Linked DNA regions of Homo sapiens: regions 2, 3 and 4 are each reported to be linked to region 1. The links are microRNA targets in miRTarBase. Many come from high-throughput screens and were not tested one by one. Region 1 holds a microRNA gene; each other region holds the end of a gene's coding sequence.
The links. Region 1 holds the annotated microRNA hsa-miR-556-3p (AUAUUACCAUUAGCUCAUCUUU, at 2,864-2,885, opposite strand). A microRNA usually pairs through its seed, bases 2 to 8, with sites in the 3' UTR of a target mRNA and lowers its output. Matches are read on the target gene's strand: a 7mer-m8 pairs with bases 2 to 8, a 7mer-A1 pairs with bases 2 to 7 and ends in A, and an 8mer does both.

Region 2: the mRNA of DSG2 is a reported target of hsa-miR-556-3p. Seed matches in the 3' UTR shown: 7mer-A1 at 3,669-3,675.
Region 3: miRTarBase lists MRPL35 as a target of hsa-miR-556-3p. Seed matches in the 3' UTR shown: 7mer-A1 at 2,965-2,971 and 8mer at 2,068-2,075.
Region 4: miRTarBase lists CLDND1 as a target of hsa-miR-556-3p. Seed matches in the 3' UTR shown: 7mer-m8 at 2,452-2,458.

What each region holds. Positions count from the first base shown.
Region 1 is chr1:162,337,220-162,345,484 of GRCh38, reverse strand. MIR556 (microRNA 556) reads right to left here and starts at 2,939; the gene lies at 2,845-2,939. NOS1AP (nitric oxide synthase 1 adaptor protein) reads right to left here. Exons shown (of 10, transcript NM_014697.3): 6 at 1,509-1,650. It also overlaps the pseudogene RNA5SP61.
Region 2 is chr18:31,543,697-31,551,961 of GRCh38, reverse strand. DSG2 (desmoglein 2) reads right to left here. Exons shown (of 15, transcript NM_001943.5): 15 at 2,954-6,241. The coding sequence ends at 5,219. DSG2-AS1 (DSG2 antisense RNA 1) reads left to right here. Exons shown (of 6, transcript NR_045216.1): 3 at 1,603-1,924; 4 at 6,056-6,226. Among named protein-coding and RNA genes, the nearest start is that of DSG2-AS1, 9.1 kb to the left of the region's middle.
Region 3 is chr2:86,206,561-86,214,218 of GRCh38, reverse strand. It overlaps MRPL35 (mitochondrial ribosomal protein L35), which reads right to left. Exons shown (of 4, transcript NM_016622.4): 3 at 6,892-7,036; 4 at 429-3,739. The coding sequence ends at 3,551. REEP1 (receptor accessory protein 1) reads left to right here. Exons shown (of 9, transcript NM_001371279.1): 9 at 1-226. Among named protein-coding and RNA genes, the nearest start is that of MRPL35, 11 kb to the right of the region's middle.
Region 4 is chr3:98,513,261-98,520,718 of GRCh38, forward strand. CLDND1 (claudin domain containing 1) reads right to left here. Exons shown (of 5, transcript NM_001040181.2): 3 at 5,625-5,735; 4 at 3,792-3,929; 5 at 2,223-3,619. The coding sequence ends at 3,399. Among named protein-coding and RNA genes, the nearest start is that of CLDND1-AS1, 5.6 kb to the right of the region's middle.

The DNA.
Region 1 (8,265 bases):
CTGTAGCTTACTGTGGTACCTCTTTTGCTGTTAGAAATCATCATTCTCAGTAAACTATCGCAAGAACAAAAAACCAAACACCGCATATTCTCACTCATAGGTGGGAATTGAACAATGAGATCACATGGACACAGGAAGGGGAACATCACACTCTGGGGACTGTTGTGGGGTGGGGGGAGGGGGGAGGGATAGCTTTGGGAGATATACCTAATGCTAGATGATGAGTTAGTGGGTGCAGCGCACCAGCACGGCACATGTATACATATGTAACTAACCTGCACAATGTGCACATGTACCCTAAAACTTAAAGTATAATAATAAAAGAAAAAAAGAAAAGAAATCTGTATTGTCATGTTAAATTTATAGATAAACAAAGAGAGAATTAACATTTTTATGATGTTGAGCTTTCCCATCCAAGAATATGGCATGCCTTTCCATTTGTTTAAGATTTTTTCGTAGGTAACAAACACATTTTTATTGTGATTATTCATAAGTATCTTTTTTTTTAATTGTTATTTTAATGGATTTTTTTCCTCCACTATGACTTCTAACCAGCTGTTCTTGGAATATATGAAAATCACAAATATAGCTGTATGTGTTATTGAACTTTGACTTTCTAGCTGAATTCTCTTATTATTTCTAATAGTTCTCAGTTTATTTTCTTGGGTTTCCCATGTTAAAAATTAACATAAACAATATTTTTTTTATCTGCTCTTTTTCTTGCCCATACTTCATTTTTTCACATTTATTGTCTCCTTCCTGACTTTTTTTTTTTTGAGGCAGCCTAGCTCTGTAGCCCAAGCTGGAGTGCGGTGGCACAATCTTGGCTCACTGCAACTTCCGCCTCCTGAGTTGAAGCAATTCTCCTGCCTCAGCCTTCCAAGTAGCTGGGACTATAGGCGTGTACCACCACGCCTGGCTAATTTTTGTATTTTTAGTAGAAAATACAGGCAACATGGCAGGGATTTGCCATGTTGGCCAGGCTAGTCTTGAACTCCTGGGCTCAAGTGATCTGCTCATCTCAGCCTCCCAAAGTGCTAGGATTAACAGACTTGAGACACTGCGCCCGGCCTCCTTCCTGACTTTTAATGAGGCTTGAAAGTTGGGGATATTAAAATACTATCCATATTGAGGGCTTATAGAACTACAGAAGTTAGAAATTTAATAAAACAAACTAGGTAATTATAAATTTATGTTCTTTCTAATTTGTTTTATGGGGGTGCTTTTTTACTGAAAACTTCTTTGAAGTCAGATTTGGTAGTATAGCAGCTCTACCTCTCCCTGATATCCAGTTTAAATACTTCCTCATTTAATAATTTAAACATCTTTAATTTCTGTTATAAAAGTAATACGTGTTCCTTAAAGAGAATCTAGAATTTAGAGAGAAACGGAAAAAATAAAATGTTTCTTAAAATGAGTTCACAGCCTGGGGGTCAGGGCAGTGATCCACCAGAGCCTACTGTGTGCACTGCCTTCCCACCCACATCCACAGAAGCCGCAGTGCCTACCTGGGTCTCCTGAGCTGTTGCTGTTCCTCTCGCTCTCTCCATCTTCCTGGCCATCTGCATTCTGCTGCGTGTGCTGCAGGCTCAGCTTGTGGCAGACCTCAAAGGCCTGCCCCACCGTCCGAACGATTCTCATAGCTTGGCTCTGGGAAGGAGAAAGGAGAAGAACAGGATGGGTGAGGATGCGCAAGGGGCATGTGGATAGAAACTCATGAAGCAGCCAAAGAAAGAGACAGAAAAATCTAAAGTTGTTCAGATATGCACATACAAATGAGTGCAAAGACATTTCCCCTTTCTGAAATACTCCAGAAAACAGAAACTGTCACCACAGTGCTGAAACAATCAGTCAACTGAAAGGACAGATAGCAAATATGCCAGTTATGGACTTAGCCCCAATTCTTCCCTCCCATGTGTAACAGAAGTAGTCAATATGCTTCAGAATCTTTTGCCAGCCATGATAAAATGTTCAATGGGTCCATCAAACTAAGAGGAACTCGGCTATCATTTTTTTCTTTTTTGAATGCTGCTGCAAATGTTGAGTTTCCCTGGAGCTCCTGCAGACCAAGGGCAGTGGTAACATGAGGCTTGGAAGCCATGGCCTAAACAGCAGAAACCAATGGAAGCTCAGCACCCAGCTCCTCTGGAACACCACTAGTTGGCAGCCAACTAAATCTAAGGTGACACTTTCCCAGACTTACTCCAAAGACCTCACGTTCTTGGGTCTATTCTGTGGCTCCTTCCTTTCTTTTGTTTTGGTATTTAATCTCTTGCTTTAAGAGCCCAAGAAGAGAACTTGACCCTAGTTCCCAGTATTCCACCATTTAACTAGGAGAAGAGAGAGAGGACAAAGAAGCCTGCTCCTATGTAGAGTCTTAGGCCACCCATGCAGGCTGTGAGGAAGAGCCACATGCAGGGGTTCCAGGGCATGGCCTCAAAGGTGGATAACTGATTATGGTTTGAAGATGTCAGCTTTTGCTTTCTTTCAAGGACAGAAATGAGTGATGTGGTTTATTTAGAGTTTCAGAGCTCAGGCTGGGAAGGGCTCAGCACACTGCTTCTCTTACCTCAGTGGGCCTCAAGCATCCCACCACCATGGGCTACAATTTAATCTAATTGTGATTGTCACCCTATACTCAAGTCTAACATTCATCGTGTTTTGGATGATCTGACTTCAGGTCAGCCATGGCCACCTGTTGACACCATATAGTCCATCAATCACATCCACCTCCCACCCACCCCAGGTAATGGCAGCAATCAAGTAGGGCTTTTCATCAGCATGAGGTAGCTGGTATTACATTACCTAACTGATATCCAGTGTTTTGATAAGTCTAGAAGGCCTTGTTGAAGGTAGTAATAAAAAAGATGAGCTAATGGTAATATGAAATGTATAAATGAAGCTCATATTACAATGAGCTCATCTTTCTTATTACTATCTTTGTGAACTCCTAGGGACCTTGGAACCCTGTGCATGGAACAACTGCTGTAGTCCATTCTCTGCTGGGTATAACTTCTAGAATTGCTTCTCCTCAAGCCTGGAGTCATTTCTATGTTCCTTCTGCTTATTTCAGGCCAGAGCATCCATATTAATGTGAAAGGCATCTTGACTAATTATCATCTACATGTCAATTTGAGATCTCAGTCAACTCTACTGCTCCCTATATTCTTCAGTTCAAATCTACTCCTAGAAGTAATTGTTTTACAGCTCTAACCTTTCTTAGCCATTAGACTAACTCCAGAGATATTCTCCATTGGTCTCTCACCTGAAATATCCTGACACTTCTGGGAGATAAGAACCTTAAGCGAAGCAGGAGGAGATGGGTAACTTCTGTGGGGTCCACCATCACCCAGTGGCGAATCAGAACCTCTGTTTTCTACATCTACCCTTAATTTCCTCCTGTGTCCACAGGGCAGGCTTAGGCCCCTTCTCATACCATAGGCTTGCAGTGTGTAAGACATGACTGTTCTATCTGCACAGGAAGTTGAGAAGCAGTAGGCATCAGTCCTAAGCAAGAAGCCCCTACACTTCCCACTCCCAAAACACACAAAAAGGCGTGATTTAGAAGACACAGTCCCTAACAAATGTGGGCTAGGAACACTCCAGCTTTCTACATTTCCTTTAGCCACCAAGCTGTGCTGTGCTTAGGAGGCTGTGCCAGGAAGCTTAACTCTCAGGTGAAAAGGGAGAAGTAAAGGCTCCTACATCCGAAACTGTTATTCCCCTAGGCCTTGAGATTTTTTGGTTCCTATTCCTTTTATGAGAGTAAGAGCAGACTGCCTATGGTTAATCGTCTACGGCAAAGCTCGTTACTAGTTTACTAAACCTTAGGTATGACTTTATTCTGCCTACCACTGTCCTACCAGTGTCCACTATACAGAAACCTTCCTCTACTTTCTTCTCTGACTCTTGGGAATTTTGCTCCCCCAGGTATCTTTACAAAAGGTAAAAAAGGTAAATGTTTTAGGTTGTAACAATAAAATATGGTAAGTCCAAATGATATGTAGAGATTAAGTGTTTAATTCCATTACTTTCTTCTCTTACATGAATTAACCCAGATATCTCATACTGAATAAATATCTGCAAAGACTGAGTTAGTCTTTTCCCGTCGGTTTCATTCCCAGGGTACAGATTAAAATACAGTTCCCCCTTTAAAATACAGTTATATAGAAAATTCTAAATTCACTACTGAGTTTGTTCCTATAACATCTCAGGTTTTCCTAAGGAGGACGTGTTACAAATTCCATCATCTCTGTAAATCACAGATACTTCCTTTAACCAGCTTTTAAGATGATATTAAAAATTTAAAGATCCTCAAACAAATGTCCCTGATCTATGGGATTAGACAGGGGTAGGAATCGAATTTCTAAATTTATCTTTGGAAGGAATCCCTCAGATTTAAATAAGAGGATAAAGGTGGTGGGAGAATGACTTCACAGAGGACCTGTATTTCTCAGGCATCACAAGATGACAATGGATGATGGGCTATGCTCAGAACTGAGCATCTTAAGAATATAGACTCCAGCTCAAATCTCTATTCTGCCACCTTTATCAAGGACAAACATGTGCAACATACTCACATATTCAACCATCTATAAGCCCAAAGTGGCTGTAAGGAAGTAGGCTGGTTTTAATGGTTAATATTGATAACACTTCATTTTCACATTTTACTAGTATTTTTTACTAGGATCAGCAGCTGACCCTAACCTCTACCTGATTCCCCTGAAAAAGTAGGAAATGCAGACTTTAGGTTTACTGGTTCTGCCTTCCCCATGCTGGAAAGGGCATCCCATCCTTCAGCCTCCCATTTCCTTCCTATCCTCCCTCCACCCGTTGTTCTCTACGGTATTTCTGTAACTGCACTGAAAAACTGAATATATGATAGCACCTACCACAGTGCCTGGCATATAGTAAATGCTCAAGAAATGTTTTATCCTGACTATGGAATTCACTGCACCAAGAGGCAATTAAGACAGAAAAGAAAAAGCAGTGCAGGAAAGGTGGAACAATTTTTATCATAGTAGAAACATAAAGCGACTAAGGGAATCACCTCTTACTTATGTATGCTAACATCCAAAAGGCTGTGCATCAGATAGCATAGCCTCCACCATAGCAGCACAGGAAAATTCCTGAGCCAAATGGATCTTTGGTCTGAGCTAGTATGATAGTTTCTACATGTGAGGAAATTGTTGCATTAAGAGTTCTAGATCTGCATACTGAGTGGTAAACAGTTTAATAATTAAATTAATAAATTAAATGGTTTAATTTATCCTTTATTTTACTCCTTTAATGTGAAGGTTATATTTCTATTCACAGTAAAAGGACACTGTAGCATGTTTCATAAAGAGCCCTCTGCACTGGAACACATAATCAAGCTACTCTAACTGTTTCACAGAATGACTACATACATACACATAAAAGAATTGCCCTTCCTATCTACCACTCAGGGAGTCAGAAGGGGCTAAACAGCTCCTCACTGTACTCATAAATGGCTATGTGAGTTCTGATGTCCCTTGACCTTTTAGGCTCTCCTTGCTTCACCATTAAAAAGTCTACTTTTAGAGGATTCTATATGGGGACCTCGTTAGGGAGGTGATTACTTAAAGGTGGTCAGTAGAGGCAGCCTGTGCCTGGGAGGGGCTGTGTCTTCACCATCTGCTTTCTGCACAGCCATGCTGGCTCCTGCCTGCTAGGCCTACCCCACTTAGTTACCCCACCTTCTGGCCTGCAGGGCAAGAAAACTGGTTCTGCCTTCAACCCCAAAATGCAAGAATCACACACGCTGGGATTTTATCATTAATTAGCCATGTCTGCACCCAAGAGGGAGAACTCTGGTAAATAGCAGCTTTAAAAAGTCCCTTCCAGAAGTTTTTATGAATGCTTGTCTGTGGGTCTTCTAGATCACAGTGAAGCAGTTGCTCCCACCTCATGACGACATACAGGCCTTTGGAGACTAAAGCAGAGGTTTAAAGATTGAAGGCAGTGAGGTACAAAGGGTAAACAAGTGGAACCTTGAGAAAGCAGCCTTTTTGAGTTCCAAAATCTGGCCATTCTCTGGAATTTACTAGATTTTTTTTTTTTTTAAAAAAAGCATCATTATACTGCATTATTTCTGTACAAATCCAGTTTAGTTTTACATAAGCCCATAAAAGTGCTTTGCCACACGGATCAAATCTTCTCGTCCAAAAGCCATTTTCTATTAGCAGCCCAAAAGCATTTGTGGGCTCTTCATTGTCAAGATTAGGCTGGATATGGTTGCTTTGATATTTTCAAAGCTGGAAAGGGATCTCTAACCTCAGAGTGGCTCTTAGCTCCAGATGGAGAGCCTGCTCATGGGAGTGTCAACTACAGGCAATTTTGTGAAAATACAGCTGGAAAGGGAGCTTAAAACTGTATACACTTACCTTATACACACAGCAATGTTTCTTCAAACCACCCATCTTTTCACGCTGACACAGCTCCTTCTCCCACAACCCTAGGACATCCCTCAAGCCAGAACCAAAGTTAAGTCCAAATGCAATGAACAGCTGTTCTCCTCAGCACACCTAATGTGGGTATCAACTTCATACCTAGCAGGAGTCAACATTTGATGAACTGCGGCAATGGTCATGAAAATAACACTATATTCACAATCACTGTGGGTTGTACACCCGAAAGCAAACAAAAGCCGACAGTGGTAGCTTTAGGAAGACATAAATCAAAAGGTTGATTCCTGTACCTCACTGGCCCATAGAAAAATTATAGTCAATCATGATTTTATTTTCTCCCATCAAAGTACACACCAGACCCCACCCTGCTTAGCTAATGAGATCAGACACATTCAAGGTGGTATGGCCATAGACCATGATTTTATTTTCTATTCTCTTTCTTAACGACTTTGTAGTTGGTTGGTCCTATAAAATTTGGGAATCTTTAAGTGCCATATGCATGTAAAGAATGGTTCTTATTAGTCATATTCTATAGCTGATTTGATAAATAATTTTGGGCACTGTTCTGAATTTCACTGTCCTGGAAGAAGCTCTCTCTTTACTTTACAACTTACAAAGAGGATTAAGAGTCACCAGATAAGCAAGTAGAGAGTATAAGTACAAAATACCAGATGAAGATGATGATGACAATGACAATAATAAGAGGAGAAAAGAGAATAATGGGGGCACACATCTTTCAAGTAAGGTTCTTTAATGGTCTACCAGCTCTCTAGTTTACTATTCCCCTGTCCCCTCCTCCACTCCCCCTCTCCCCCATCTCTTTTGGGTACTCAAATTTGACTGACAAGTGGTTCTGAATTTTAGAGAACTGAAGTCCATGAGGTCAGCTGTGGGACAGCTCACAGATTTATAATTCTTATCTATCACAGCAATACAAGATAATGTCCTTGTCTTGACCTTAACTGCCACAGAATCTCAACAAAAACAGAACTGAATGTCATGTTTCTTTAATGTATTTTTTTGGGTTGGGGGGAATCTTAGTAAAAGATTCAGCTTATATCTATCAAATGATCTTAATCTATGGAATTTACAATGCCAAAGCATGAAAATACATTTATATTTGGACTTCTACATACAGTAGGATCTACAGTACTAAGGCTCTGAAATGGTAGATGGGTTAGGTTTTTGTCCAACACATTATTTTGTGGCTTTGATTATATAATTTGGTTGAGGTGATGCCTTGGACATCAGAATATTGCTCAGTATAAGGAAAGTTTAGTTTCAAAGCAGGTGTGATTTTCTACATTGACAGGACATACTGCATCTTAAAGTTTCCAACAGATAGCTGTGTTTTTCCTTCTACTCTGCTAGTCCATGAAACTTAGTACCCCAGAGAAAAGAAGTCTGAGTTACAATCCCAGTGCTGTCAGAACCAACTGGGTGACTGTGGACAGTTAATTCTCCTTTCTCAGTATTGATTTTCTCATCCACAAAGAGAGTGATTCAGACTAGATGAGTTCTGAGACCCATGATTCCTGCATTTTGACTTCCCAACTCAACCTAAAGTATAAAAAACAGACTCTTTCCCTAACTTTAGAACTTTCCTATCTTTCATCTCGTAAGTTTGACCAGGCAAGTGACTTATTCTTTAGCACATGGCTGTCATCATCATTCAAAATCCATTGCAACCTCTAAAGGACAGTTCAACTTCACAGCTGTGGCCCCCAATTTGATAGTGACAGCATTATAGGAGGAAATTATTTCTCCTAACCCAAACCAATCGAGCTGTGATTGCAGGCAAAATTATTTCAAGGAGCTGCCCATGAAGATAATGGGG
Region 2 (8,265 bases), not on the chromosome of region 1:
AAAGATGGAAGCTTAAACTTATCCATATAAATAATTGTTGTAAAACCTTCTGATAAAAGTCAGAAATTGTCAAAATGGGAAAAGCCAAGACCTACCTGTATATTGTTTACAATAAATGTACTATAAAGGCACAGACAGGTGTCAAGCAAAAGGATCAAAAAGATATACCACGGAAGCACTAACCATAAGAAGGCTGGTATGGCTGTATTAATGTTAGGCAAGGTAGATTTCAAGACAAAGAATGTGTTAGAAGAAAAACTTCAGGCAAATTAAATTTTACAAAGTTGGCTGGGTGTGGTGGCTCACGCCTGTAATCCCAGCAGTTTAGGAGGCTGAGGCTGGTGGATCACTTGAGGCCAGGAGTTCGAGACCAGCCTGGGCAACATGGGGAAACCCCATCTCTACTAAAAAAAAAAAAAAAAAAAAAAATGCAAAAATTAGCCTGGTGTGGTGGCGTACACCTGTAATCCCAGCCCAGCTACTCAGGAGGCTGAGGAGAATCACTTGACCCTGGGAGGCGGAGGTTGCAGTGAGCGGAGATTCTGCCACTGCGCTCCAGCCTGGGTGACAGAGTGAGACTCCATCTCCAAAATAATAAAATAAATAAATATATAAACAAATTTTACAAACTTTAATTGAGCAAAGAATAATTTGCAAATTGGGCAGTACCTAAACCGGAGTAGATTCAGAGCCACGCTGGTGCTGCCACGTGGTCAGAGAGGATTTATGGATAGAAAAAGGAAGTGAGGTACAGAATAGCAGGACTGGTTACAGCTCAGGGTTTGCCTTATTTGAATGCAGTTTGAACAGTTGGCTGCCTGTGAGTGGTTGAAGTATTGCGGCCGTGATTGCCTCAGACAAGAGTAGGTTACAGTCTGTTTACACATCCAGTTAGGTTATAGTTCACTAAGTATGGAGAAACCTTCAGGCCAAACTTAAAATATGTAACAAGGGCCAGGTGTGGTAATTCACGCCTGTAATCCCAGCACTTTGGGAGGCCAAGGCAGGCGGATCACCCGAGGTCGGGAGTTTGAGACCTGCCTGACCAATATGGAGAAACCCCGTCTCTATTAAAAATACAAAATTAGCTGGGCGTGGTGGCGCATGCCTGTAACCCCAGCTACTTGGGAGGGTGAGGCAGGAGAATCATTTGAACCTGGGAGGCGGAGGTTGTGGTGAGCCGAGTTTGCGCCATTTCACTCACTTGAAACTCCGTCTCAAAAAAAAAAAAAAAAAAAAAGGAAAAGAATGTAAGGAGGCAGCTTTAGGCTAAAGGTAATTAGCAGTTATAAACAGAGATGAAGAGAGGCATTTCATAATGATAAAAAGATCAGTTCTTCAGGAACACAGTAATCCTAAATGTACTTGTACCTAATAACACAGGCAAAAAGTTTCAAAACACAGGAAACAAAAATAGAAAGAATTAAAGGGGGAAATAAGCAAAGCCACACTTGGGAGACTTCAACCTCTTAGTAATTAATGGAAACAGTAGACAAAGTAATTGGGAATGATATAGAGGATTAAAATAAAACATAATGAAACTAATAAATTTTGGTCCTTTAAGAAAGTCAGATTTAATGATCTGAAATGTCTCATTTTTAGGTGATATTTGGTTAGCAACGTCCTACTGTAGACATTTTGATGTGGTGGTGATTGGAATATGGTCTGCAGAGATCAACCAGAATTAGCTCCATGTGCCACTGGGAGTGGGAACTGAAGTCACGCAGGAATAAACCAGTCTTCATGCTTTAGGATGTTCTGATGTGCCATTGTCGTGAAATCTTCATTCATGAGACATTCCAGTTTACCGGCAGTGTCGACTAGAATATGCTACAGCCCCCAAAATACGTTTTTAGTATAAGGATTATTTTGAGCTGATTATTTTGAGAAATAGCAGACGCAGGAGAAACTCTGAAGACAGAACGTAAGTTTACCTTTTGTAAAGGGATTTACATTTATAAGGGAAATGTCCATTTGTAAGGCTGTCTCCCTCCGTACCGGAAACACGGGATGACTATAAGTGACAAAGAGATTAATTTAAATCTGCATGACAAATCTTACTCAAGCTTACCAGACTTTTCCTGGTCACCTTCCCATAACTTGTTTCCCCTGCCCAGAAGCCCCTAATCCCCTTTCCTATGTTTTAGCCCAAGTTGGTATATTATTAAATTAAACTGGGCCTGAGGCTGCCTCCATACCTTGAGTCCCCACATGACGAACTGCAGCCTAGCTTGGTACATAAATGAACTGAAAGCCTAATTTAGGAGTATATTTTTGTAATACATAGCTGAGCGTCAATCAATCACAGCAGCTGAGTTTCAGCCAGTCACTGGCTGCCAACTGATCAGCCCACCTCCAAATAAGGCAAAGGCTCAGCTGTAACCAATCAAGCAGCTTCCCTACCTCACTTCCATTTTCTGTCTATGAATACGGCCTGCTCATTATTGTAGAATAGAGTTCTCCGAACCTTTTCTAGTTCCAGGGCAGCCCAATTTTGTGAACCTTTCTTTGCTTAAGTAAACTGTTAGATTTAATTTGTTTAAAGCTCTTCTTTTAACATTTTACACCCAAGTTCTAACCACCCCTTTGAGCTGCTCATTCCAGTTACTCCAAAGCATGCATGAGATACACATGTTAACAGACTAATGTTTGTTTTTCTCTTGTTAATCTGTGTTTTGTTACAGAGCCCCAGCTGGGGACCTAGAAGAAAATTTGTTTTTCTTCTCTTATAGCAGCAACTCTGATCTTTTCCCTTCTAAACTATAACAAGCAATTAAAACAGCCTCTCAAACATTGGTAGAATGATTTCATCTCTTTGGGTTAGATATACTAGCCTTCTTCTGCCAGACCCAACAGATTTCTCCAGTGTTACTCTGGGCAGAGAGCAACCTTCACTTCCTTAGGAACAAGGTTGCCAGAGTTGGACAATGAAAATGCCAAGTACCCCGATAAATTTGAATTTTAGATAACCGACAACTTTTTTTATTGCAAGCAGATCTAATTAAATAACAAAGTCCAAGAAACACCTGCCTTTAAGGCACTCTCCCTAACAAACTGAGTTATATTCCTTGTAAAATATAATAGAGAAATAAAAATCTATGGGGAAAGGGTCACTCTAAAGATACTTTTTATTTAAATATTTTATGATGATACATATACAAATATAATCTTCCAAAAAACAAATGTAAAACTAATACAAATCACTTTTTCAGGAACAAAGAAAATCATTTAGAAAATGTGATTATGCTAAAAGAGGCAGGTTAGGTTTCCAAGGCTGCTCAAGGTGGAAGCTTAAGACCAACTTTTGTTTGAGTACACAAGTGATATTTACATTTTCATATACTAGTGATATACCTGTTGCATACTTGGCAAAATAAAACTGATAGTAAGTCTATAATAATAAAAGAAACAACAATTACTAAGTAAACAATTCTAGATGATGGAAGAGTAACCTCCATTTAAGCTACAGACTTAGATGTCTAAAAATATGTGTCCTGATCTGTACAGTTAGTGGGAGCACACTATATAAATCCTTTGCATGACACCATTCAACAATATTTTTTAAAATCTACAAAATTTTAAAGTTTCACTTCCCTAGCAAAATATCTTCAGTCAAGAAATTAGTCTTTGAAAATTATGAAAATTGTTGTGGGAAATATTTATACAAATTATTACTGATAATGCACATATATTTTGAAACATTGTTTCTAGAAGCAATAAAATATAACCTATTTAGGAGATAACCCAAATGATTTGTAAAAAAATTAACTTGTAGAAAAGGGAAGGATGTTGTGTAAAATCAAGTCAATTATTTGAGGTTTTTATAATATTGAGTACTTATGTACTAAGTCACACCCAGCCAGTCAATAACTGAGAAATCAAAATAAAATAATAATTTCAAAGAATTACATAAATACAGGGCCTTTTGAGATTTTTGGCAATTGTAAACAAAAACGAATGGTTTTTACAATTCAGTGTAATTCTACGAATATTTATTTGGCACCCATGTTAGGCACTGAGGCTACACAGCAGTGAAATAGGCCTAGTTGTTCTCAACTAGAGAACATAGTTGGTTAATGTAGCTGCACTGAATTGTAGCTGTTTAGAAGATAATATACCCTGAGGCTTTTTAAAGTATACTATTACTATAAGAAGTAAAATTATTTTATACTTATAAATTTTGTTTTGGATTATTCAACTGAATTTGGAGTGTTCAGAATTTTCATGGCGGTTGAGACAAGGAAGAGGTATAATGCTATTTTTTTTTCCTTTTCTTTTTTTTTTTGAGACGGAATCTCACTCTGTTGCCCAGACTGGAGTGCAATGGTGCGATCTCGGCTCACTGCAACCTCCGCCTCCCGGGTTCAAGTGATTCTCCTGCCTCAGCCTCCCAAGTAGCTGGGATTACAGGCGCCCACCATCACGCCCAGCTAATTTTTGTATTTTTAGTAGAGACGGGGTTTCACCAGGTTGGCCTGGCTGATCTCAAACTCCTGACCACAGTTGATCCACCCGCCTCGGCCTCCCAAAGTGCTGGGATTACAGGCGTTAGCCACCACCCCTGGCCAGTATAATGCTATTTTTAAGACTATACAGTATGTACGTGCACACACACACACTGTCATGTGCACAGAAACATACAATGTGTATTCTTATCATCAATGGTCCAATTTAATGAATCACACAGATTGAAAGGGTTCAAGTCTTAAAGAAGTTATGAGCACCATAGCTGGTGCTCAGACTGTGCATGTATCTTTGGATCAATGAGTTGTTGAAAGTCTGCTGGGTGCAGTAAAGTACAGAATACAGAACATCAATGTTTAATGTTAATACGGTAGGCAAAGAGACCCAGTCAGTTTCCTGGGTTGCTTTACTGGACGGCTGATGAACTAGGTACTCTGTTCACTTGGTAAATTCTCAGAAGCCAGATTGACTCTCTATGTATCTTGTTTTATCAGGATTGTTTGCATAGCTTGCTAAAAGGCACCTAAGCAGCAGCATCATCTCTATGTCTTCAGTAAATTGTGGAACATTTCTAAAATACTCCTGGAAGCAGAGACAGTGTGGTCCTTTGCATATCAGTGACTGAGAAAAATTTTAAGATCAATGTGTATGTGTCTCTGTGTGTCTGTAAGGCTCATGAAAAATCAGGTACATTGGAAACATGAAATTAGTCACTGCTAATTAAACTCTGGGTCAGTTTGTGGCTGACTGCTGTTTAGGAGTAAGAATGCTGTACAGTGCTATGCTTGGTAACTCTGGTGGAAGATGTGGTTATGGTAGAATTAGAATGACCAGATTCCTCTAAACCAAAATCTGGCAGAGGGCCAGGGACTCCAGCTCCAGACACCGTGGTGTTCCTAGCCGTCATAGAATTTTCAGTGGGAATCTGGTAACTGGATTGCAGAGTGGAAGCAGGTGCTAGAACTCTTTCTGTCACTGTCACATTCTGTCCTACTGCTATATTAGGCATGGCCAGAGTAGGCTGCACACCTGAGCTGGGGGCAAGGAAGCTCTCTCTTTCCCTCACCATGACGTAAGGTACATCTTGAAGATGCTGAGTGCCTTCCAGAGGATTCGATCCACCCCCATGAGGCTGTATTACTCTTTCAGTGACCACAACTGTACCTTCATTAGCATAAGGCTGATCTACCAAGGTAGAAGCTGGAGCATACACCCTCTCTGTCACAATAAGGCTCTGTGGCTGGCTAGGACCCAGGATCACAGTGGTTGGTGGCATAGTGGACCCTGTGACATAGGAAGTTTCTGTTGCTATCACATTTCTAGAAGCCATTGGGTCAGGAAGAGGTGTAGCTACCTTTTGCGCCTGCCTAGAAGACACAGATCTTTCAGTGACTATTTCCTGAGTTACTTTCTCTGCATTGGCTTCTTGCAAAGATTTTGGAACTGGGAAGCTACTGCCAGAGGAGTAGGTATTCTCTGAATTAACCATAGTTTGCTCACAGAGTGAATGTGAAGCTGTGTTCATACTTGTTTCTGTGGCAGGTTTTTGTCTCTGCTCAATTTCCTTATTTATATCTATTTTTTGACCCAGGCAAACTTCAGCTAGTGTCTTGAATTTAAGTCCCAAATCATCTAAGAAGCGGTCATCTAGCTCTCCTTCAATAAAACTGCAACAACCAATAGAAGCATTCAGCGATTCAGTTTCTTCCTGAGAATAAACCAGAAGGCAATCTTTGGCTGTGTGATTTTCATCTTCCTCAGTGTAAGAGGCCGCTTTCTAAAATGAAAACAAAACAAAACAAACACAAAACAGACAAATAATTAGCAATATAAATTCATTTTAAAACAAGACTCTATATTCCTGTTCAAAATGCAGTAATGTGAATTTAATTACAAGGAACCATCAGGGAAACACAAATTGAGAGAGATCCTACGACACAACTGGACTGTATTCTTAAAAAAAATTAATATCAGGGAAAAAATAGAAAGGCAGAGGGGACTGTTTCAGATTAAAGGAGACTAAAGTGTCAGGACAACTAAATGGAATGCAGGATCCTGAGAAAAACAAAATTGCTGTAAAAGATAGTGTGATAGTTGGCTAAACTGAAATATGGACTATGTCAATATTAAAGTTCTACATTTGTTAACTGTACTATAGTAATGTAAGAGAATGTGTGTGAATGTGTGTCAGTGAGAGAGAGACAGAGAAAATGGAAAAGCAAATAGCAAATGTGGCAAAATGTTTATTGGGTTCAAAATTTCTATTATTCTTGCAAATTTTCTGATAACTTTGAAATTACTTCCAAATCAAAAGTTAGTACACACATACATAACCAAGAATGACTGGAGCAGGATTAGAGTGGAGAGAGGGAAAACTTACCAAAAGAAAACAAACAGGACGCTAGAATTGAGCTTAGCAGTGAGACAGGAAAGGCCAAGAAATGGTTTTGCTTGACACCACCCACATCCCTGTTAAGCTAATACTTGAAGGTGGGTGAAGGATGGTATGAAAGATGGGAGGTTAAAAAGGAGCAGAAAGTGGGAAAGCACGCTAATAATTTGCAAATTTAGAAGAGGGGGACAGAAGTAACTTGCTTTCCTCAATGGAAGCCCCTCCCCTTACTCCTCTCTAGGGCCCTTCAGATGCCTTATATTCCAACTCTGTCCATTCTCATGGGAGCACAGGGCCTTGTTCTCAAGAAAACCACCCAGTCCTACTTTTTAAAAAATTATTCTTACTATGTCTGTAAGATCTGTAGTAAAGTTCTTTATTTTATTTCTAACATCCATAGTTTGTGCTTAATCTCTTAATATCCTAATTAGTCTGGTAAAATGTTTATCAATTTTATTGACCTCTTTAAATAATAAGCTTGTGGCTTCAATTTTTTTTCTTATTACTTTTTGCTAAATATTTCATTGATTTCTGCTCTAAAATTCATCATTATCTTATTTCTGCTTGTTTTGGGTTTAATTTGCTCTTCTAACTTCTGAGGGTGGAAGCTTAGGTCACTGATTTGAGAACCATCTTCTAATATAGCCATTTTTGCTACAATTTCCCTTCAAGCATCACTTTAGTAGTACCCCACAAATTTTCATGAAGTATAATTTAATTTGCAGTCATGTGTATTTATAAATATTTGAGTATATTTTATATATCTCTTTGTTACTGATCTCTGGTTTTAATTTTTTTTTCATCAAAGTACATTGTATGACTGCAGTTCTTTAAAAGTTATTTACATTTATTTAATGTTCTAGAATACAGTCTATATGAAAAAGCATGTGTATTCTGCTTCTGTTGCATAGAGTGTTCTGTCAGTATCAACTAGATCCATTTGGTTCACAGTACTAAGTTTTCTATATGCTTACTGATTCTGTCACTTGTTCTTTCATTTACTGATAGATCAGGTTGAACTCTCCAACTATCATTATGAATTTGTCTGTTTCTCTTTCAGTTGTTTTTGCTTTAAGTTTTAAAAATTTCTGTTATTAGGTTCTGACATATTTAGGAGTTTCAGGCCTCCTGATGAACTGACTCATTTTTCATTATGAACTATCCCTCATTATTCCTGGTAATATTCCTTGTTCTGAAGTATACTTTATCTCTATGTTATACTTTTTTTTTTTTTTTTTTTTAGACAGAGTTTCACTCTGTTGCCCAGGCTGGAGTGCAGTGGTATGATCACAGCTCACTGCATCCTTGGCTTTCCAGGCTCAAGTGATCCCCCTACCTCAGCCTTCTGAGTAGCTGGGACTACAGGTGTGTGCCAGCATGCCCAGCTAATTTTTTGTATTTTTGGAGAG
Region 3 (7,658 bases), not on the chromosome of region 1:
TCTAACAGTGTACACTCCCAGAGCTGATATTCTGGATTTTGACTGTGCACATTTCCTCTAGTTCATGTCTGTAGTCCCTATAGAATGATCTGTAATAAAATAGTATACTGGACTGTGCATCAAAGGGATGTAAAATTACAGTATTCCAAAGGTTGAAGTTCTGCTGTTTTGTTATAATGCCTGATACACATCTTGAATAAAGTCTTAACATTTTTCTTTTAAAAAACATCTTTGTAATGTTGGGCTTAAAAGGAAACAGGAAATACTTTTTTTCAAATATGGGAGGTAGCAAGGATTAGAAGCTGAGTGTTCAGCCACCGACTGGCCTGGTGACTTGGCCCCGTGCCTGTTGCATAGGATGTTGAGAGGGAAAGAAAACCAGATGATATAAATGTTTTGAAAACCAGTTCATCACACAACTACAAACCTGAAAGTATCACTGTTTATTTCACATTTAAAAAAATCATCGGCAGAAACTAGGTAGCTGTGAAAATAGAATAGTCCACTGGTAGAGTTTCAATTGTGCAAACAGACGTTTGGTCCATCATTTTTCTTCTCTGAACATTTCTTCATCTGCAAATGGGGGAGTGCCTGTGCAGGTGACAACAGGGTGGTGAAGGGCCACCCTTAAACCTGCTGCAGCCCTTACCTTTCACATCTGAACAGGCAGACTCAAACTTCATTGGGTGGCCACAAAGACTTGGAAGCTCAAAATTTGAAACATCAAAATTAAACACAGACCCAATTTCTTTGCATTTTTAGTCCTGTATTCTATGTTTGACAAAATCACTGTAAAATAAAGCAGCAGTAAGAAAAGAAGCAGATTCAGAGGACTAAAAGCAGGAACAGATGGGAAAAAAAGGCTGGAAATCCATTCGTTTATTTACTGAGCCTGGTCCAATGTCAACAGAACTAGGATTAACTAGGTTAAGAGTTGGCAAAGGACAGGAAAGCAAAGTAATAAAATTTAAAAGCTGAATTGGTACAGTGTTATGAAGAAGTGTTTATTTAGTATTTATAGTACCAGATTACAGTCACTTGTTGATTTAGATATGAATTTTCATATGTTAGAAGACTCAGGGAAATACACAGGATCCCAAGGAGTGAGACTGAGATTCTGGGTCTTATTAGCTGTACTTTGGGTAATTTACTTAACCCTCTCTCAGCTTCAGTTTCCTCAAATCTAAATTAGGGCTTAACTAATCATTATGTCCTTTGTAAGACTGGAAATGTGGATTAGCAGTTAGACAGTATGTATGTACCCAGTTTTGTAGATATGCTGGGACATAGTAGGTGTTCAATAAATTATACATATACCTGAATAAACAAACTATACATAAATATTTTATAAATTATACATATAATCGAACATCATTTAGGTAAACTCTTTAATGAAAGACATTTATTGTCAGATTATAAAATCAGTGTTGATGATAAGCCCTCCTACCCACAAAACAAAAATCGTATGTATGAAATTCCCTTTCCCGTAAGTTATGTGCCTGTCAGCCATCCCACTTCAGTCCATCTTTGGATGCTGAGGCTCTGGTTGCCAGTCCTTATCTCTACACCTGTCCCTGGTCTAGAGGAGAAACGAAGGTGCTCTGAGGCCCCTGTAACAGAGACCCTTGTCATCCATATTTGCAATAAAGACATCATGGAGGCTGTGCAAAAGTATCCTTCTCCCCAACTTCTGCAGGCACCATTTCCATCTCACTACCCAGAGGTACATCAGAGAGCAGGAGCCAGGCAGGTGACAAAGATGTGGAAGGCTTCTAAGTGGTTGGCTTTGCCGTCTCAGAAGTGCGAAGAAATGAAAATCCATCAAAACAGAATGCCATTCCATGTTTCAGGCTTTTACCTCACCTCAAATCAAATGTCTGTTCTTTATTTATTGGTCCCATAAGTAGACACGCACTTGGACTTCTGGTTTTAGAACATTCTATTGTTATCCTTTCTCCTTTTAATAAACACACACTAGTTTCGAGGAATCTCCCTAATAATCCTGGCCTGACATGCTGCAGAACTTCAATTTCATAATTTTACTAACAACAGAGGAATTTCATCTTATTATTACCAACTACCACATTAAAGGATCTGAAACAGTAATTCATGCATAATTCTATTTAATAATGGTTTTCAAAGTACTTTGCTGTTTGAAAATGCTTCCCAGATGATTCTGATCGGAGAGTTGGGAACCACTGCCCTAGACTGTAACCACTCAATTGAACTTTACTCAGTGCTGCTTCCCTGCCCACTTCAAGTAAACAATGCTTAACTTTTTCGTTTCTAAAACAACTGAGATTACTTTCTCCCCCTTAGTTTCTACAATGATTGTTGAAAATTTGTGGGAAAAGTTTATCCTTACAAATGAAAACATGAAATCTGAAGTGGATAAACTAACTTTTAAGAAATACATATCCTTACTCAGTAAGCTGAGGCAGGAGGACCACTTGAGCCCAGGAGTGCGAGGCTTCAATGAGCTATGATTGCACCACTGCACTCCAGCCTGGGCAACAGAGCAAAACTCCTGTCTCTAGAAAAAATAAATACCTATCTTTCAAAACTTGCATAAAAAGCCCTTGTCTTCACTTGTACAGCCTCTTCTGTTTCATGAATGAGCATGCTGAAGGGCTATTTACTCTCCTATGAAAAAATGTTGTTACAGTAAATGACAAGTGTTATGAACACAATGAACCTGGTGTGTTAGATGTTAAGTGTGCTGCCACCCCATGTGAACCTCCAAGTGAAACTGCTCACATAACTGTTTTTTTGCTGCATGCAAACCTGCTAATACAAAGCGGGCTCCTGACTTAAGGACAGCCAATCCCTACTCTAGACAATGACCCAACCAGACCTAGTATAAAAAGGTAGTCTGGCCCAGTTAAATTCCCTTGGCAATTGGAGACTAGCAGCAGGAGCTGAAGGTCATCATGTAGAAAAGAACCTCAAAGGTGCAAGTTAAAGTTATTACAAAGGAACAGAAACTGTAAGTATGCAAAAGCTGTGTAGAGAAGTTGGTGAATAGAGAGAATGGAGTTAACAATGCAAAAAGAAGCAAGTCACATGCATGCAGAGCCCAAGCCTAAACATCCACCTTCCCCTGCTGAGGAGCACCACCCAATTTCTACTCTTCCTGAGGCTGGGAGGTGATTTCTGAGTGGGAGATGGGGTTGGTGAGGTGGTTCCTGAATTCCCTGGCACATATCCTTGAAATAATGTCACATTGCTTGAGCTAACTTGTAGCTTTTGAGTCTTTTTATGTTTGTCCCACTTGAGATTCCTTGCAACTAAAAGAGCATAACTGAAACAACTAGTTAAGCCAATACCATTTGTTAAAAATAATGCACCATTCTAAATTTCTGTTTCCCTAACCAAATCTGGCAAAGTCTGATCCATTAAGTTTTAAAACTTTTCTAAGTTTAATGTTGTCACTGTATGTTTACGTATTCATTGGTACAATTTACATCAAGTTTTGTACTTATCCATTTTTGCAAAGATATGTACACAAAGATACATATCCAATAACTGAGAAACAAGTGAAACTTCTGATCTATACTTTCAGGTTTGTTCGATCATGATACTTCTGATAAGGATCATCAACGTACCAGTTTCGCCTCTTCCAGAAGGACGTCGTCATTTTATCTAAGAGTTTACTCTGGGTTTTATTGCAGAATACAAATTCCCTCAATCGCTTCTTCCTTGCAGGTGTCTTTTTCCATAATTTTTTCTTATAGCCAGCCTGTCAGATATTACAAAGAAATGTAAAACATCATACTATGTATGAAACAACAGGTATCTTCACAACTCAAGGTTTATAGACCCAATAAGAACAAAAACCAGACTTCCATAGGGGCTGGACTATTTCTTGGAAAGATGTGATTCTCAATGGCCGGGGGAAGGGAGGGTGGCGGGGAGGGGGATGGAGAAAGCATGTGTAGTTTAAAAAAGAATTAGTAATAAATCATATTTTAGAAAAAAATTATTTAAATTAAACTCACAGAAAATAAAACTAAATGTGTGTGGCTGGGAAAGTACAAGATAATGACAGAATTATAATCACTAACTTAACAGGTATGATCTTACTATCTCTTCAGCAATCTTTAACAACATACTATTATTCTATTTTACATCTTTAAAAAAAGAAACCATTGATTAGAGAAGTAGCAGACAGAGGTCTGAGGGCTAATAAGAGTTCTTTTTTTGTTTCATTTTGAGACAGGGTCTCACTCTGTCACCCAGGCTGGAGTGCAGTGGCATGATCACGGTCACTGCAGCCTCTACCTCCTGGGCTCAAGTGATCCTCCTGCCTCAGCCTCTCGTATAGCTGGGACCACAAGTGTGCACCACCATACCCAGCTACTTTTTAAATTTTTGTAGAGATAAGGTCTCACCATCTTGCCCAGGCTAATAAGAGTTCTTAACCACTGTCTTTCCTAATGTAGAGGAGGATGGAGTGCAGGCGAGGTAACAACATTAATATTTATTAAGGAGGCTGAGTATTACAAGAGCTGAGAAGCACAGTTCTCAAATATATTGCTTCATTTATTATTTTCACACACAAGGGACCAATTTTTATAGGAAGTACTTTTCTAAGGAATTATGAATATGGTAAGACTATTATTAGGAGTGGTGAAGGAATGGTTAACCCACATATTTAACCCAGAACTTTCATATACACCCATACAGGTATTATTCATTTTGAAGAATTTATTTTTAAAGACAGGAAAGGAAAATTTGATTGATTATAAAAACTATAATCATAGCCTGTTTAAACTAGAAGGGATCTTAGGTGCCATCCAGCTTAATTAACATCTGGCTAAAACCACACGGTGAGCCCTTGGGTCCTTTCAAGCCAAGGGCTCTTTATGGCACAATACCAACTGAACAAAACCATGGCTCTTTGCCGAGAATGTGCCTTGCATTTCTGACATGTCTTAGTATCATCACTGTGACCATCAACTTCTATAAGGACAGTGATGAAATAAGGAAAGGTTATTTAAGAGTTCTGGTTTTAGAATGCTAGAGGTTAGATTTTTGCTACTCACTGCTTACAATTTTAAATGCAAACATTTAAAGCCAAATCTCCACATTTGTGTAATAATTTCATAGTTTGCAGGCCAAACTGGGTTACTATGGATCTCTGACGTACAAACACCTAATTTATTGCCCTGCTCATTACCACCAGTATCCTTTAAAGATTATTCACAGAATGGAACCACTATGAAAATGCTTGAAATTTTTTAGACAATCTCTAGATTCAAAAATGGAAGGAGGGAATGAACAATAAATACCAAGGACTGCTGGATGAAACCGTGTCATGGAAAATACTTTGTTTTACACATTAGTTTGAATTCATCTACCCAGATTTTTTTTTTCTCTGAAAATTAGATTTTGAAGAGGCAGGGCATTCTATACAGGGTATACTTTCGGGAGCCCTGAACTGAAGCTAGGTATTATGACTGGAGAGTATGATCGGGTCCTTTACAGTAACATGAGGGCCCCAGAGCCCAGTAAGAGGGACATGGAAAGGAAGGCAAGGAAACCCACCCATTTCATTTTACCTAGGGCTAGAAGAGGACCTGGAAATAACTGGTATAAAAACCAAAGGGTGGGGCTAGGCGTCACGGCCCATGCCTGTAATCCCAGCACTTTGGGAGGCCGAGACAGGTGGATCACTTAAGGTCAGGAGTTCAAGACCAGCCTGGCCAACATGGTGAAAACCCGTCTCTACTAAAAATACAAAAATTAGCCTGGCATGGTGGTGCATGCCTGTAATCCCAGCTACTCGGAAGGCTGAGGCAGGAGAATGGCCTGAACCCGTGAGGCAGAGGTCACAGTGAGCCAAGATTGTGCCACTGCACTCTAGCCTGGGCGATAGAGTGACACTTTGTCTCAAAAAAAGAAAAAAAAAAAAACACATACACACAAAAGGGAAGAAATGTTTCCAGTGGTCTCAAATTCACAAAACTCAGAACATTAGACCTTTAGTTTAGCTGCTTTATGGATTATATGAGCTTCTGCTGACTGGTGTAGGAAACTACCCACCACAGTGTTTCAATAGAGAAATGAGCTGAGAGTTCCAACCAACCCATTTATCTACTAATTTAGTACTGTTTATAAAACGGGAGAATCCTTTCAACCTTTCAAACATCAAGAAAGTTCTACCAACTATTTTATTTTTACAGGGAACCAAATTTTGATTTTTAAAGATTTAATTTCCAAGTAATGAAAGGGAATTAGGATTTGGGCAGTTACTAAATCTCAAAAATGGTTTTGCAAAACTGGTCTTAAGCTGCTTTCTTTTCATTTTTTGAGATGAAGTCTTGCTGTGTCACCTAGGCTGGAGTGCAGTGGCGTGATCTTGGCTCACTGCAGCCTCTGCCTTCCAGGTTCAAGCGACTCTCCTGCCTCAGCTTCCCAAGCAGCTGGGATTATAGGCACCTGCCACAACGCCTGACCTCAAGTGTTCTGCCCGCCTTGGCCTCCCAAAGTGCTGGGATTACAGGCATGAGCTACAGTGCCTGGCTGAATTCTGAATTCTGTTTGATTTTAATCTGCTCACACTCCTTTTTTCTTTTCTTTTTTGAGACGGAGTCTCGCTCTGTCGCCCAGGCTGGAGTGCAGTGGTTCGATCTTGGCTCACTACAACCTCCACCTCCCGGGTTCAAGCAATTATGTGCCTCAGCCTCCCGAGTAGCTGGAATTACAGGTGCCTGCCACCACGCCTAATTTTTGTATTTTTAGTAGAGATGGAGTTTCACCATGTTGGCCAAGCTGGTCTTGAACTCCTGACCTTATGATCCACCCGCCAAAGTGCTGGGATTATAGGCGTGAGCCACCACGCCCGGCCTCACATTCCTTTTTCAATTTAGTAACAGTGTGAAGACTCACCTTTCTCCTCACCCAAAGGCCACAATGAAGTCGAAGAAACCTATCGATGACAGCTTTCACGGTCTTTCTCTTGCCTTTTCTTGCACTGAAGTATGTTAGAGATCTGACTGGCAGCTTCAGGACACTTGGAAGCACGGGGGCCATTCTAAAAATATATTTTAAAATTTTTAGCTTGTAATCAGACTGATTAAAGGATTAAAATTCATTATCTATACTGAGAAATGAGTAAAGCTGCTCCAATGGACTGGAACTAACTTTTCATATACAATATTACTTCCAATGACCCATGACATTAAGCATAAATTAGAATAGCAACCATCACCAACTCGCAATCTTCTAAAACCTACCCCCTCAATCCCTGTAAAATAATTCATTCTATTATCATCGCTTTATTTCTTATCCATCTTCCCACCAGATTGCAAACTCCTTGAGGACTTCAATTTGTTTACCCTTATGTCCTTTTTGCCAAGTACAGTGCTAGGCACCCAGGGGTATTTAACTGAGTATTTGCTGACTGAATGACCAACACATGCAGCCCATCCTTATAAGCTGAGCGTCTTGTGCACCCTCCACTTTGGATGACAGCCTCCATGCAGGAAAGCACACATACAACATCAGAAGCATGCTGTGTTTGGCATTTTCCTGCTGCAGGCGCCTAGATACATGGATGTCAGTCACAGTCTCCCACTCAATCAAGCAGATGTCTACATAATTAACTGCAGGTAGGCAAAGAATACCACCTACTTCTAGGATACCCCTGCAGGCAT
Region 4 (7,458 bases), not on the chromosome of region 1:
GCTGAAAGGAGGACAAAAGCCTCCACCCATCTGTGCCAGGACACAGCTGCATCAAGCTTGTGAAATAACAATTTGCATCTTCAGAGCTGCACCCATTAACTGCTCTTTTAGCTGCTAGAGAATTTCAGAAAGTTTTGCAATCAGGCCGTGTGCAGTGGCTCACGCCTGTCATCCCAGCACTTTGGGAGGCCAAGGTGGGTGAGTCACTTGAGGTCAGGAGTTTGAGACCAGCCTAGCCAACATGGTGAAACCCCATCTCTACTAAAAATACAAAAGTTGCTGGGCATGGTGGCACACACCTGTAATCCCAGCTACTCCGTAGGCTGAGGCAGGAGAATCCCTTGAACCCAGGAGGCGGAGGTTGCAGTGAGCCAAGATTGGGCCACTGCACTCCAACCTGGGTGACGGAGTGAGACTCCATTTCACAAAAAAGAAAGTTTTTCAATCAGCAAAATTAGGTTAACAGGTTTTCATTTTTGGTGAAAGTTTATATGAAGGCTAAGTATTAAAATGGCCCGATCTATATATGTTATAGTCAATTGAACATGACAGGGTCTATAGGTTTTAACTGTGCTAGTCTGCAATTTGGTGATGTTTCTGGAATGGAAAAACAAACTAAATTGATATGGTTTGTGGTCATCTCATTCTTCTCAAATCATATGACTAAATGAGTTCACCTAGGAGTGATTGTCAACCCTATCCTCTCCCTTAACGCACGTGTGCATGTGCACACACACAACTACAGCAGGTAAAATTTTAACACATTCCCATTAGATTATAAATTTGAAATCCTAGTGTAATATGATGCAGACAGAAGGCACACTGTTATCTGAATAAATTCTAGAATTCCTTTTTTGTTGTTGTTGTTGTTGTGCCAAATTGTGTTTTATGGCTATACTTAATAAATTTTGAAATGAGTCTTTTGCTAAAAATCATAGAGGATATTTACCCACATCATTTAGTTAGGAGCTATAAAATCAAAGTCTTAAAACACATTTGTTAAACTGCCACAAAATTCATTCTGAGGCCGGGTATGGTGGCCCATGCCTGTAATCCCAGCACTTTGAGAGGCCGAGGCGGGCGGATCGCCTGAGGTCGAGAGTTCAAGGCCAGCCTGGCCGACATGGGGAAACCCCATCTCTACTAAAAATACAAAATTAGCTGGGCATGGTGGTGCATGACTGTAATCCCAGCTACTCGGGAGGCTGAGGTAGGAGAATCGCTTGAACCCAGGAGGCAAAGGTTGTGATGAGCCAAGATCGCACCATTGCACTCAGCCTGGGCAACAAGAGTGAAACTCCACCCCAAAAGAAAAAAAAATTCATTCTGAAAAATCTGAAAATTAATTTTTTACTTTGGGGGTTGCTTTCAAAGATTAAATAGGGTTCGCCTTGCCACTGATTTTATCTATTAGGTTGATCAAAAATGGCTGAATATCTGCAGTTTCATATGGTTCAACCTGATTAGAATCAGTTTCACATTTAAATGAACAATACAGCCCTATATATTCCAAAGAAAAAAAGTCTTTGCAGGAAAGATAACCTCAGCTACCCTGCAACATGCTAAAAATACCAACTACAATGCAGCACCAGGGGTTATGGTGCTAGTAGCTTCCCATGTAACTCTGGGGTATTAAGAGGCAGGGACATTGTTTAAAATAACTGACCAATACAAAAATGTCATGCTGCCAAAAATTTTCTTATCCCATTCCCAAAGGTGTTTTGTTTGTTCATTTAGCTTTTCTCTTTTCCACCTTCCACAGAAGGCGCTGAAGGGTAATGAATCTTCAAGAATTAAGATTAGATAGAAACCTGAGTAACCAGTCATTTCACAGGCAATAATTGGCTACAGAGTAATGCTGACTTTGTTCTAAGTCAGAAGCTGACTTGGTTATTTACTATAGAACACAAACATCCACAGCCACTAAATGACTTTACTGAAAACTAGCCACATTAAGTATGACATGTAGAGATAACAAAACTACTTTTGAGAACATGGTTTAAAATTCTGAAAAATAAAAGATAAAGATTTTCTTATTTCTAATAGGGGGAAGGGGTTCCTACATTTCCCAGAAGATCAAACAAGAGACCCAAACACAGGATGTAACGACAGCCCTGTACAGCAAGATGCACTTTGCACAGACAACCACAGAGATTGCCTCCACTTCTTTATCCTAAAGTGTTGAGATTTAAATCAATTCAGACACTCTATATACAATTGAGTCTCTTTTCATTTTTAATTTTATTTTTTAAAAAAGACATTGAGGTTATGGTAAGAAATTATGAAGTTACATTTTTTTAATCTGTCAATTGCTACAGTAGTGGAATAAATAAATAAGTTTTTTAAAGTTCAATGTTTATAGACATACTTATAAAAAAATGACTGAATTAGAAGACATTAAATAATGTTGATACACACCAGGAAGGGATTTAGGCAAGGAAAGGCACATCATATTACCACAAGAAATAAAGACCATAGTTGGAGGTTAATGGACAGCCAGAACTTTAGATCTTGTGGTAGGTTTCCCAGCTCTGGAGGGTCATTATGGTGAAACGTTCTTTATAGTACTGGGCTGGAATAAATAAATAGCAGTTGAGGAATTTTACCTTGTAACTGTAATATAATGTAAAAAGAAAGCACACTTTTAATAACCCTGGTATGTGAAGAGGAAAGAAAAAAAATCCAAAACAATTTGGTGGTACTGAAAATCTTACGGAGAGTTAAAAATAATACTAATCCTCGCCCGGCTGAACTGGAATTCTTGCAGTTACAAAGTTAAAATTTCAAGTAAACACTGTATTTTTCACTTTTTGTAGACAGACACAGTGCAGATACAAACAGCTGCCATATCTCACCTCAGATGAAGCTATGTGTCAATGCTTAGGGAAAATGATCTTAGATAATTTCCCAATTTTATAGAGCTTAAATCTTTGAAAACAGCACTAATACTGCTGGTTGACTGGCTATCTACAACAGCAAAGTGAACATAAAGTTTTGACGATGAGAGGTTTCCCAAAGAAACTAATATAGAGTTTTTAGTTGAACAGATACAGTTACTTTAGTTTTACTGAAAAGTCTAACAGACATTAGCACAACTTGTTTTCGGTCACATTCCTACTCCCAATTTTCTTTCATAAATTTGTGTCAAGTCTCTATCCATTTCTTTCTGTCTAGACCTAGATTAGTTTATTTGAAAGATGGCATCGCTTAAAGTAAACCACATAAATTTTAGTGGTATTAAGTGTGTATTTAGTGGTGAATGTGTATAAATAAAATAGATTTTCATAATAAAATGGTATATCCACAAATAAAAATTAAAAACAATTGAGAGGTGGGGAAAATATCAGTATTATTTTAAAAAAATAAAAATGGCAATTGTAAAGCAGGCAGTTTCTTGCTCATGCCACACGATATGCCTTCATTAAGGTGTACTCTTTCCGGTTGGTGTGAGCAGCCCAGATGAAGAGAGCAGAAGCCATGAACTGTAAGGGAGCAGAGACACAAGCCAGGCAGAAGGACCATCCAAATTCACCGGATACATTGTCAGGGAGCTCTAGTTTCTGGTGGAGTAGTTCAATTCCAGCAACATAACAACTTACTGAGCCCAGTGTACACAGACCTTGGGGGAAAATTTAGAAAACAAAACAAAACATGGCTGGATAAAAGCACAGTAAAGAGCTTTTCAGGCAATGTGACAGGGCAGTTAATACGTGAACATTTCAGATTTATAACTCTTTGGTCCCTAAAGAGACAGGAAGAAGCTAAAAGGTAAGTATGATGACAAAACCTACCTGCAAGGAGATGGAGAATGCCCGTGGCAATGGTGGGATATAAGCTTCGGCAAATGCAAGCACAAAGTCCGATCAAAGCCCCAAAGCACATCAAACCTAAACTCACAAAAGGTAAAAGGAACTGGCAACGCCAAAGATCTGATTTTTAAAAAGAGAGAAAAGAAATGTTACCGTGATTTCAGACCATTTTCCCCGCAATGGCAATTTCTTTCATATTCTAATTAGATCTTTTCTCAAAAAGTGTGAAAGTATTTTAACATTGAGGCCTCTTTTCTAAAGCACATTATTCAAAAGGATGCTACTCTTGTCCTGATAAAAGTAAAAGGACACTAACAGGTAGTAGCAATTACTGAGGGTTCACTATGTTCCATGCTATGTTTGTCTACACATTTTCTGTATTAATCCTCCCAACAACCCTAGAAAGTAGGTACAGTCAGCCCTCCATATCTGCAGGTTTCACATCCGCAGATTCAACTAACCAAGGGTTAAAAATATTCAGAAAAAAAAATGATACAAATTTACAAATATATAGTATAACAACTATTTACATAGCATTTATATTGTATTGGGTATTATAAGCAATCTAAAGATGATTTAAAGTATACAGGAGGATTGTGTAGGTTATATGCTAATATTATGCCATTTTATATAAGGTACTTTAGCAACCTTGGAATTAGCAGGGGGTCCTGAATCCAATCCCCCATAGCTACAGCTGTATTATTATTAATTCCATTTTGTAATTAAGGAAACTGAGGCAAGAGTCATAAATAACTTGTAAAAATAACACAGTAAGTGGTAGAGCCAGGATTTGATACAAAAATCAGTCTGACTCTACCTACCAACAATATCTAGGTCTTTATATGATCTAAAGGCAGTAACAACAAGTAAATTAATGGTAATTATAAATGACCTGTCTTATAGGGCTGTTGAAGAATATATATAAAGCACAAAGCAGAGAATCTAAAGGTAGTTTTAATTATCATAAATCTCTCATCAACATGGGAAGAAAACCTGATGACCTCACAAAACATGCCATTCCATTTTCCAATAATATTCATTATTAGAAATGCATTCATATCAATCTTGACTAAACTTTACACCTTTTGGTGCTGGTTTTGCTTTCTGGAACTTCTTATGTGTTTTTCTAACTTACTTTCTTTCAAACTCTCCTAGTAATAAACTGCTTGCTACACATTCTCTTTATAAAACTGAATACCTACCTCTTATTCAACCTTTTCTCTTACAACATGGTCATTCTTCTGGGCAAGTCCCTATAGCCCTGAAAACTGAGGCTCAAATCTGAAGACAGTATTTCATGGGCTGCCTGACCATCAGGGAATAGGTTGTTCCTAATAAATACTTTCATCTTTTTTGACATCTACCCTTTTGTTACTATCACCTAAGACTGGATAAACACTTTTGACAGGCCTGACAACTCACTGACTCATTTAGAGCTTGCAGTAAACTTTTTTCACATATACTTACCTGAACTCAAGCAGTGGAAAGTGTTTAATTCAAATATAGGAATGTATAAGTTATCTCAACTAAATTTCCTTTTACTAAATGGGCCCATTAATAACATCTTTTGAAGGTCTAGATCCCATCATCCAATGAAGTAGTTGGCCCTGTCAACTTCAAATCATTTGAAATTTGGTAAGCATGTATCTACCTTCTAAAATATCAACAGAATAGAGTTCACTGGATACTGTTAGAGATTTTATTTCACGTTGGCACAATCTACTAACTCATCTTATTCCAAAAACATAGTCCAAAAAGAGACAAATAAAATTATCTTTGTTCCCCCAACTGTCCTGGTGAAATCAAAGTACTCACAGGTCCTAAGGAGATCAATCCCGCTATTGTGGTTTCCGGGATCAACAAATTTCTCCATGAACTGCTCAGTTAGTGTGAAACTCACACATTTTGTGACCACATCAAATGACTCTGGAACAAGAACAATTGCCTGTTGTTTTAATTATAAACATTTAACAAAAATCTCTTTCAGTAATTATTCTCTGAAGTAAAACAGTAAAGGATGTTTCCAGAGGGGTCAGCAACTTCTCTGGCCCTGACTGACACACAGGTTTCATAGATGTCCAATGGATGCCACTGGTTCTCAGTGGCAGGCTGAAGACATAGGCACAAGGAAGAAAAATAAAGTGGAAGCAGTAAAATGAATGGCAGAATAGCTATGTAGAAAGCCTAGGAAGAAGGGGAGGGAACAAAGACTGAAATAAATAGGAATGTTGATCTTCTCATGCAACCGTGCTTTATCAACCATATTCCCATCTCAGGGAATGCCAAATCCACACTTCCAGTTCCTCAGACCAGAAACTTTAGAGTAATTCTTGTACATTTACACTCCATCAGGAAATCCCAGGAATTCTTCCTTCAAACTATGTCCAGAATCCAGCTGCTGCTCAGTGCTACCATTCTGGTGTGAGTCATAATCATCACTTAACCTGAATTACTTCTATAACCTCCTAACCATAGTCTTCTAGTTTCCACCTTTGTCTGCTGCCTCTGTTCTCACAACAGCCAGGGTGACCAGATCAGGGCTCAGCACTGTATCTGGAGTCAACACCAAAGTTCTCATTCTGCCTAGAGTCCTCCAGGATTTGCCCCAGTCCCACTCCCAAAGTAGGTCTTTAACAGCATACCCAACTTCCCGTCTCTCCCTCCATTCCAGCCCAGTGGCTTCCTTACTGGTCCTTGAATATTTCAGGCATGCTCCCGCCATAGAGCCTTTGCAGTAGATGTCCTTTCCAACCTAAATGACTTCCTCCCCATTTACCCATATGGCCAACTCTTTTGTCTAGTCTTTAACTACATTCTTTACTCAAGTGGTGTCTTCTCAATGAGACCTACTTTAAGTATCCTATTGAAAATCATAACCTATGGCCACCAATATTCCTTTTCCCACATATTTCCAAATCCCTTTTGTGTTCTATTTTGCCATAGCACATGTCATCTTTTAACATACTGAATAATTATTTATTCTGTTTATACTGTTATATTCTGTTCACTGCCTGTCATCCTTTATTAGAATGCTAGCTCCCCAGGAGTAAGGATTTTGTTCTTTCCTGATGTTCTCCCAGCTAAGAGGCCCTGGAACATGGAGACATGCAATAAATTATTTGTTTAATGAATGACTAAATGGTAACACTCCAATTCCAACTCCAATTTCAATATCAAGTGCTCCTGTAACCTCATAAGTCAAACTGAACATTTTACAATGAATTTTAACCAACTTTCTCTCCTTTCCTTCCAAATTATCTTTTTTTCCAGATACAGTGACATATTATCATCCTTTTGATATATCATAACTCAAGCCTGTTCTGCTATGATTTGAATACAATGCTTCCCCACTAAGGGGCCAACAGAAGTAGTCATAAATAAACTGTAAAGTTGTTCCTTACAAAGAGTTCTAAAGCTACCATTTTAATAACTGGAAATCAAAATCTTTAAGTGTTAAATAAGAATGCCTGTAAAATAAACCTAAAAATCTAGTTTTTGGTTTTTTTTTTTTAACTTCTGTAATACAAATTTCTTAACCTACCAACTCTGCATCAAGATTGTTGTAAAACAGTCTCATAATTACACAGATTAAATGTAGAGCTGGTCAAATTATATCCTCTAAGACACAGGGGCAAATGATAGATATGTA